Homo sapiens: one gene and its partner. The protein of the gene in region 1 purifies or fractionates together with the protein of each later gene. This does not show direct contact. Each region holds a gene or a part of one and is shown on either strand. Other genes may lie near its edges.

Region 1 (5,566 bases):
CGCGTCTGCGCGTGTCCGCGTGTGAAAAGGAGCCGGGAATCGTGGGGCCATTCATAACCTGCTTGAGCTGTCCTCGGCAGGCCGGGGGGAGGTGCGCGCTTCCAGGGACTCTCCCGGTGTTTACTACGTCGTGCCTGAGAAACCAGGCGGGGGCGGGGGGAGGCAGGGAGCAAAAATTCACCTCTGTGCCCTAGGATGAAGGGGAGACCACGGGCTGGATTGGGAAGCAGATGGGAACTTTCTCTTCCTGGCGCTGCTCCACCCCTTACCCGCCCCCCACCTCCTGGCTTCTCCTCGAGTATCGTCAGTGTTTTGATGGAAAAATCATTTAGGTGTACATTATTGGAGTGGAAAAACCACTTAGATGTGCTCACTTTAATCCCCTGTGGACTTTCTCTGTAGGTCTCTGCCTGGGAAATTCGTATGCACCGATGTACAAGCACGTGCATTGCAGCATTCGCTCGCTCCTCAGTGTTATGTGCCTAGACGTGTCATTTCTCATTATGCAGATTCCAGAGACATTGCATGCTTATGGCTGGGAGTTTGGCCCCTCTGCAAGATGAGGGGGCAGAGAGAAGAAAGAGGAAATCGTCCCAGGCAGCTTTGGAAGGGTTCTTAGTGGACGGTGCTGCGGTCTGGCTTGTGTGAATGACTTTCTAAAATGGCGGCCAGGACCCACTTTATGTGGGAATCAGCAGAGCCGATCTCAGAATGCACAGAGGGAGGAGGGGGCGGAGGATTCGAGCTGCCTTGGAAAGCGGCAGTCTGGAGGAACATTACTGTATTAAAAACGGCTTAGCTGGCAGTTTGCTCACGACTGCATTCAAAGGAGTATCTTACCTATTGCAGAGTAAAAGCAGATGCTACTGATAAAAGCAGGTTATTTTAAAACTAAGCAGATCATGTGTCCCTGAAATTCTTTTATTTTAAAGGTTTTTTTTTTTCATTTTTAAACAAATCTATTTAGTTGTTTAAATAGACAGTACATTTTTATGGGTTCAAAGCATGTGAAAGGTATACAGAGAAAAATCTCCACCCCTGACCCTGGAATTCCCAGTTGCCACACTTCCTCCCCTCACCCCCCAAAATCCAGGTAATGTCTATTTCTGGTTTCTTGTTTATCTTTCTGCATGTACAAGAAATGTTCCTGCTGATCCAGCTGTGGAGCTAAGTGGACCTTGTTTGGAGGAACTCAAGGCCTTTTATCCCTATTGTGGGATATATTTTGTAAAATGTGTGATTGCTACTAGGAGTAAAAGTGAAATCTGAATAATTTAAGTGAAAGGAATAAAAAGGTAGTTGTACCAGAACGATGGCTCTGCAAGAAAATGAAATGGTATTCACTTCTGGTGTCTTGTACAAATCAGAATGAGAAAAACCATGCAATACCTATATTAAAACTGAACTTTAAGTGCCTACTCTTATCCTTTTCCCTAGCTGATTACATTAATAACTGTTTTACAGGATTAAGAGGTGTACACTGGGAATACATTATATAAAACGTTTTCAAGATGAATGTTCTCTTAACAGTGATTAGGCTTTTGTAGTAAGTGTTTGCATTTTACAAAAAGATTAAACCAGACAGCTTTGGGGACAGCTTAGAGACATTTTAACAGAAAAAAGAGGTCAGTCAGTTCTTTAAAAATTTTTATATTTATTTTTAAATTTACATTCTGATTAGTTTTGTTTGTTTGTTTGTTTTTAAATGGACAGTAGATTGAGGGGTGGATGGCGATTTGGCTTTTTCCTCCCCAGTGCCAAAGAAAGACCAAATCCTTAAAACATAATCAGAACATTTACAAAAATTGGCTTTTCTTTTCTTGCAATAATAATAAATCTGTTGTTATTTTTACAGTTTTCAGTTTGCGGATTTAAAAAAATTAAATGAGAACTATTTCTGAATCGGGTTTTAGTTAACAAAGATTCATTACAGGGACACAATAGAGAAAGTCCTTTCCTTTGTATGTTAGCTGGGTTGAAGGGGGAAGGGAGGAGTTATACAATTGGTTCCTGTCTTTTAGTTATGAGAGGGAGAGAGGTGTCTGCAAAGGCGACTCCTTGAATTAGAATGAGCAAATGAATAAAACCCTTAAAATATTTAACATCTTTATCTTTTCAGATTTTAAGTAAGTTGCGAATTTAGTTCTTCCCATCCATCTCCAGTTTTAGAGACTAGGTTAAAGATTATGCGGAGGTAAACTGAGGTAGCCCCTCGTGTAAAAATATTGTTAAAGAGGCTGGGTGCGGTGGCTCACGCTTATAATCCCAGCACTTTGGGAGGCCGAGGCGGGCGGGTCACGAAGTCAAGAGTTCAAGACCAGCTTGGTGAACATGGTAAAACCCCGTCTCTACTAAAATACAAAAAATTAGCCAGGTGTGGTGGTGTGCATCTGTAGATCCAGCTACTTGGGAGGCTGAGGCAGGGGAATTGCTTGAACCTGGGAGGCGGAGGTTTCAGTGAGCTGAGATCGTGCCACTGCACTCTAGCCTGGGGGACAGAGCAAGACTCCGTCTGGGGAAAAAAAAAGAATGAGACCCATTTAAAAATGTAATTTGTTTTTGCTGATTTAAAATGTTTGATCACAGTGGTTTTCCTGAGTTAAATAGATGGAATAGCTATTACATTTTATGTATATTCAGATATCTTTACCTCTGGGACACAATATAAAATATTGAATTTCCTTTTCCTGACTACTAGGGATATTTTTAGACTTAAACAAATTTGACTCACTGTAGCCTGTATCATTGTTACGTCGCTTCTTCATTTGAGACCAGAAGGTTTCTATGAAACCACTTCTTGTCTATGGCCATACCACCCATACCACCCCCATCCCGTCTATGAAACCACCTCTGGTTTTGAATATTCTGATTTCCAATATCTATTTGCATGATAGGCTTTTGCACATTTTAAAAATAAAACAAAAAATTCAGAGTTATCTTAAAACATTAAAAATTACACAGAATAATTATAAAGCAATACAGAATAATACAGAAAAATTATACAGAATAATTATACAAAATAATAAAAAATAATAAAATGGGTTTTATTTCCCAAAAGGAACGCCCCTGGCAGATTGGAGGAAAATATAGGGCTCACTGCCAGGAAGAATGATAGTGTTTCGCTTGTGTGGAGGGCACCTTTTTCTAACTACCTTTGTTGCAGACTCGTGATTGCTGGGATTGTATTGTGTGGTATACTTATGAAGAGGTTTCAGGCTTGATTTATGGGACATTTTAAATCCTGTAAACACTAATCCTTTGGGAAAATTTATGTAGGAGGTTTTTCCAAATAGTCTTTCAAGTTTCCCTTTCCCCCTAGTTTGAAATTTTACTGAAATTTTTAAAAAATTGAAAATATTCCATGAAAACCAGCATATCCAATTGGAGACTATATATTTCTTTGCTTTTATTAATCGACTGACTGATTGATTGAGACAGAGTCACCCAAGATGGATCACGGCTCAATGCAGCCTTGACCTCCCAAGCTCAAGTGATCCTCCCACCTCAGCCTGCAAAGTAGCTAGAACCACAGGTATGTGCCACCACACTCGACTAATTTTTTATAGGGATGGAAGGTCTCCCTATGTTGCCCAGCCCTGGTCTTGAACTCCTGGGCTCAAGTGATCCTCCCACCTTGGCCTCCCAGAGTGCTGGGATTATAGGCATGAGCCAGCTTGCCCAGCCTTTGCTTTTATTTTTATTTTCATTATTTTTTTATTTTTATTTTTATTCATTTTTTTGAGATGGAGTCTCACTCTGTCACCCAGGCTAGAGTGCAGTGGCAGGATCCTGGCTCACTGCAACCTCCTCCTGGGTTCAAGCACTTCTTGTGCCATAGCCTCCTGAGTAGCTGGGACTACAGGCCCGTGCCACCATGCCTGGCTAATTTTTGTATTTTTAGTAGAGACAGGGTGTCACTGTGTTGGCCAGGCTGGTCTTGAACTCCTGACCTCAGGCGACCCACCTGCCTTAGCCTCCCAAAGTGCTGGGATTACAGGTGTGAGCCACTGTGCTGGCCTATTTTTATTTTTATTTTTATTTTTTGAGGTAGAGTCTTGCTCTGTCACCCAGGCTGGAGTGCAGTGGCTTGATCTCAGCTCACTGCAACCTCCTCCTCCTGGGTTCAAGCGATTCTCCTGCCTCAGCCTCCTGAATAGCTGGGATTATAGGCGCACACCACCATGTCTGGCTAATTTTTGTATTTTTTTTTTTTTGAGACGGAGTCTCACTCTGTCACCCAGGCTGGGCTGGAGTGCAGTGGCATGGTCTCAGCTCACTGCAACCTCTGCCTTCCCGGTTCAAGTGATTCTCCCGCTTTAGCCTCCCGAGTAGCTGGGATTACAGGCACTTGCCACCACACCAGGCTAATTTTTGTATTTTTAGTAGAGACGGGGTTTCACTATGTCGGCCAGGCTGGTCTCACTCCTGATCTCGTGATTTGTGCGCCTCGGCCTCCCAAAGTGCTGGGATTACAAGCATGAGGCACTGCGCCTGGCCTAATTTTTGTATTTTTATTAGAGTTGGGGTTTCACCATGTTGGCCAGGCTGGTCTTGAACTCCTGACCTCGAGTGATCTGCCTGCCTCTGCCTCCCAAAGTGCTGGGATTACAGGCGCCAGCCACCATGCCCGGCCTGCTTGCTTTTATTTTTAAAACATTTTTAGTGTTAGTTTGAGCTGTAGTTAACCATCCACAGTATTTAGAGTAAATAATGTAGTCTGAAAATACCTTGAGTGTATATATTCATTAAATTGGGCTCCTGAATTGTGTTATTAGATGATTTGAAATAAGTGCTGTTCAGCCCCTTGAAACACATATATTAGCCTGCTGAACAAGGAGACTAAATAAAGTACATTTATCTGTAGTTAAATTAACAATCTTCTTTACTATTTGGTTTAAATTTTTCTTTAAACTTATTATTTTTACTTGCCTTACAGCTACACATATTTTGAATGAAAATAGTGTACTCCTCTGTGGAAACCAATTAGAATGTTAATCATTTTATTAGAAAGCATGTAGTTTTTTTTTGTTTGTTTTTGAGACGGAGTTTCGCTCCTGTTGCCCAGGCTGGAGTGCAATGGTGCTATCTCGGCTCACCGCGACCTCTGCCTCCCAGGTTCAAGCAATTCTGCCTCAGCCTCCCAAGTAGCTGGGATTACAGGCATGCACCACCACACCCAGCTAATTTTGTGTTTTTAGTAGAGACGGGGTTTCTCTGTGTTGAGGCTGGTCTCGAACTCTTAACCTCAGGTGATCTGCCCACCTCGGCCTCCCAAAGTGCTGGGATTATAGGTGTGAGCCACCGCGACCGGCCAAAACCATGTAATTTTTATGTGATATCTAGCTGGTTTTTAGTGTGTGGAAATATGCTTTGCAGTGAGTGAAAAGATTTTTTGGATATAATTTTAAAGTATCTCAATATTCAGATTGTTCTCCCTACATGTATTCCTGTCTGCCAAGTTGAAGATTACAAGCATCTAAAAAAACCATAGTGGAATGGCTCTATAAAATCCTAACTTAAATTTAGTGAATTCTTGGATTTAATTACTTATGATTTCATTTTGAGT
Region 2 (3,500 bases), on another chromosome or scaffold:
AAAATGTTCCAACATTGATTGTGGTAATGGATTTACAATTTTGTGAATACACTAAAAGCCATTTAATTGTATACTTTAAATGGCGAATTGCATAGTATGTGAATTATAACGCAATAAAGATGTTAAAAAATAGTAAACAGGGCTGGGCGCAGTGGCTCATGCCTCTAATCTCAGCACTTTGGGAGGCTGAGGTGGGTGGATCACTTGAGGTCAGGAGTTCAAGACCAGCCTGGGCAACATGGTGAAACCCTGTCTCTACTAAAAATACAAAAATTAGCCAGGCGTGGTGGTGGACGCCTGTAATCCCAGCTACTTGGGAGGCTGAGGCAGGAGAATTGCTTGATCCTGGGAGGTGGAGGTTGCAGTGAACCGAGATTGTGCCATTGCACTCCAGCCTGGGTGACACAGCAAGACTCTGTCTCAATTTAAAAAAAAAAAAAAAAAAAAAAGGAAACAGATCCAGAGTGGTTAAATAAAAACCTGCTCTACTCACAGGACTATTAAGGCAGTAAAAATGGACCTTTTTAAACTACCAAATCCCCAGGATTTAAACCCTGGTCAGGTGACTTATCCATGGTTATTTCCACGACTACTGAGGAGGAGAGAGAAGAATGTTTATATGAATGCTCTGCCCTCGTGAAAGGCTGGGTCCTAAATGGACATCTGCTGATGCCATCCAGTGTTCCCACGACTGGTAAAGGGAATGAATAAGTTTGTCTGATCCCCAGCTAACACACTGCGATTATGATGGGCCATGTTTAGGGGTTGTTGTCTGTGACTTTAGAAACGAGTTCCAGGTCTTCAGCAAGGGGCTTGGGTATACATGGGATTCACTTGTTTGACCATGGCCTCAGATCTAACCGGATCCAACAGGTCCCCTGTTTAATAGCAGCACTCTCAAGTTTGGTCCCTTTTGTGTGGGACCAAATTAAAGAGCCAAATAAACAAAGGCCGCCGTAATATTTCAACTACAAAGGAAGGAGAGTTCAACAAAAATAGAAATGTTTCCAATAAATAAATAAAATCAACATTCCACTTTAATGACTACTCAAGCCATTCACACAGCAGACTAATTACTTACAAATATTTAAAATACTTAGACTGGTTAATAATCAGTCAATGAGACTTAAGTGACTAAAATTTTGTTTTATTTTATTTTATTATTATTATTTTCTTTTTGAGATGGAGTCTCGCTCTGTCGCCCAGGCTGGAGTGCAGTGGCGCGATCTCAGCTCACTGCAAGCTCCGCCTCCTGGGTTCACGCCATTCTCCTGCCTCAGCCTCCAGAGTAGTTGGGACTACAGGTGCCCGCCACCACACCCGGCTACTTTTTTGTATTTTTAGTAGAGATGGGGTTTCACCATGTTAGCCAGGATGGTCTCTATCTCCTGACCTCGTGATCTGCCCGCCTCGGCCTCCCAAAGTGCTGAGATTACAGGTGTGAGCCACCGCGCCCGGCCAACTAAAATTTTAAAACAGCAAATTAGGAAAAACCACAGTGAAGCCATTACTCATTACTCAATTTTGGCATAAGTTACATTCATCATCCTAAGAAAGTTAAGCAGGCAGAGCTCCTAAGGCCAGAATAATGCATCTGAACTATATTAAACCAAACTGAATTAGTCCTATCAGCCTTATGTATATACAGATTTCACATCTAGCAAGTGTAGTATTTTTGATCCAAGTTGTTTTGGGAAAAAATCCATGTATAAGTGAACCTATGCAGTTCAAATCCATATTGTTCCAGGGTTGGCTGAAAAGGGAAACACTGCTGAGTTCTCACCCTGTACCTACCCCTCTCCACAGTGGTGTGGAGTTAAATACAGTTGTCATTACTTAGTGGACCATATTACTAAATAATTTCTGGACCCTAGCAGCCAAACCATAATAGTGTTACTTACAGTTGAACAAACATTCACTAAATTCTTGCAATGGGCAAGGCACTGTGTTCTACAGTAGGGTGGAGAGGAGCAGGTGCAGGGTGAGAACTCAGTGGTGTTTCCCTTCACAGCTACCCTTGTCTTTAAGGGTCCACCATTGCCTTTAAGTCTGTGTTGAAGTCTTTAAGTCTGTGTTAAAGTCTTTAAGTCTGTGTTAAATACTTAAAGTCTGCCTTTAAGTATCGAATCTTCATGTAGAAGCACCTAGGAGCTAACTGCAGTCAATTTAAATAATGGGATATTTTAAGGAAGAAATAATGAAAGTTTGGGGTAATAAGTCCAGGAAGTAGCTCAAGGCCAAAATTGGGGAGAAAGTCAAACAACTTTATTTTCTGCATAGAGGAATAACTTCAGGAAGTCAAATTTGCACCTACCAACCCCCTCCCCTAAGTCACCATAGCAGGAACAGGAACCAAAGACAAACTGTTATGTACACTGTACATCTACTAAAGCACCTCCTGGTAGAGGTGCTTGTGCAAATGCTCACTTTTCCCACCAGGATTATAAATTCCTTGAGAGCAGGAACAATGTTTGATCCATTTCTGTATCACCCATGCTGTTACAACACAGTGCTTTACCCACTGCAAGATTTAGTAAATGTTTATTCAACTGTAAGTAACACTTTTATGGTTTGGCTGCTAGGGTCCAGAAATTATTCAGTAATATGATCCACTAAGTAATTACAGCTGTATTTATTATGTGAATCTACTTTTTACATATAACTAAAGGCTATAAGGAATAAAATGTTAGGCTGGGTGTGGTGGCTCATGCCCATAATCCCAGCACTTTGGGAGGCCGAGGCAGGCAATCACGAGGTCAGGAGATCGAGGCCATCCTGGCTAACACAGTGAAACCCCGTCTCTAATAAAAATACAAAAACAAAATTAGCCGGGCGTGGTGGCGGGTACCTGTAGTCCCAGCTACTTGGGAGGCTGAGGTGGGAGAATGGCGTGAACCTGGGAGGTGGAGCTTGCAGTGAGCCCAGATTGCACCACTGCACTCCAGCCTGGGCAACAGAGCGAGACTCCATCTCAAAAAAAAAAAAAAAAGAACAAAATGTTAATTTAAAAATCCTAAAACATAAAGCCTATATATGAAAACACCCTAAGGACTTTGTCAGAGGTACAGTACAGACAAATTTCAGAAAGAGGTTAAAAGCTCCACAAAAGGACCTTGTGTGTCTCATTCACATATAGGTGCTATATCCCTTGTACCATGAACAAGACCTGATTTAGTGAACCCTAGGTGCAAACCTGAATTGAATAAATTCGAACTCTCTGGGTTTTCAAATTAAATCTAGTCTTTTATTGTTGAAGCCTTGATTAAACACTGTGCTCTCCTATGACCTTACCAAGAAAAAAAAAGGAGAATTAAAAGAATCTTAGCCTTGAACAAAAAGCTGTTTACATCTAGTGCCAATAAAATAAACAATTCAAATTAAATGGCTTTAGATGTTCTTTGATTTTCTCCAAAGTGTTCAAAATCTTTGAATTTTAGAAAACCAGAAGAGATGGTCAGAGAGACAGAAAGATTCGCTACAGGATGAGAAGGAAAGAAGAA

Evidence for each region. The genes of interacting proteins can lie anywhere in the genome.
Region 2: the proteins of SPEN (region 1) and BPGM fractionate together in Homo sapiens (co-fractionation; one large-scale study listed by BioGRID). This does not show direct contact.

What each region holds. Positions count from the first base shown.
Region 1 is NC_000001.11:15,849,468-15,855,033, forward strand, and holds part of SPEN (msx2-interacting protein), read left to right. Parts: intron 1-5,566. UniProt on the Homo sapiens protein: May serve as a nuclear matrix platform that organizes and integrates transcriptional responses. In osteoblasts, supports transcription activation: synergizes with RUNX2 to enhance FGFR2-mediated activation of the osteocalcin FGF-responsive element (OCFRE).
Region 2 is NC_000007.14:134,670,853-134,674,352, reverse strand, and holds part of BPGM (bisphosphoglycerate mutase), read right to left. Parts: intron 1-3,500. UniProt on the Homo sapiens protein: Plays a major role in regulating hemoglobin oxygen affinity by controlling the levels of its allosteric effector 2,3-bisphosphoglycerate (2,3-BPG). Also exhibits mutase (EC 5.4.2.11) activity.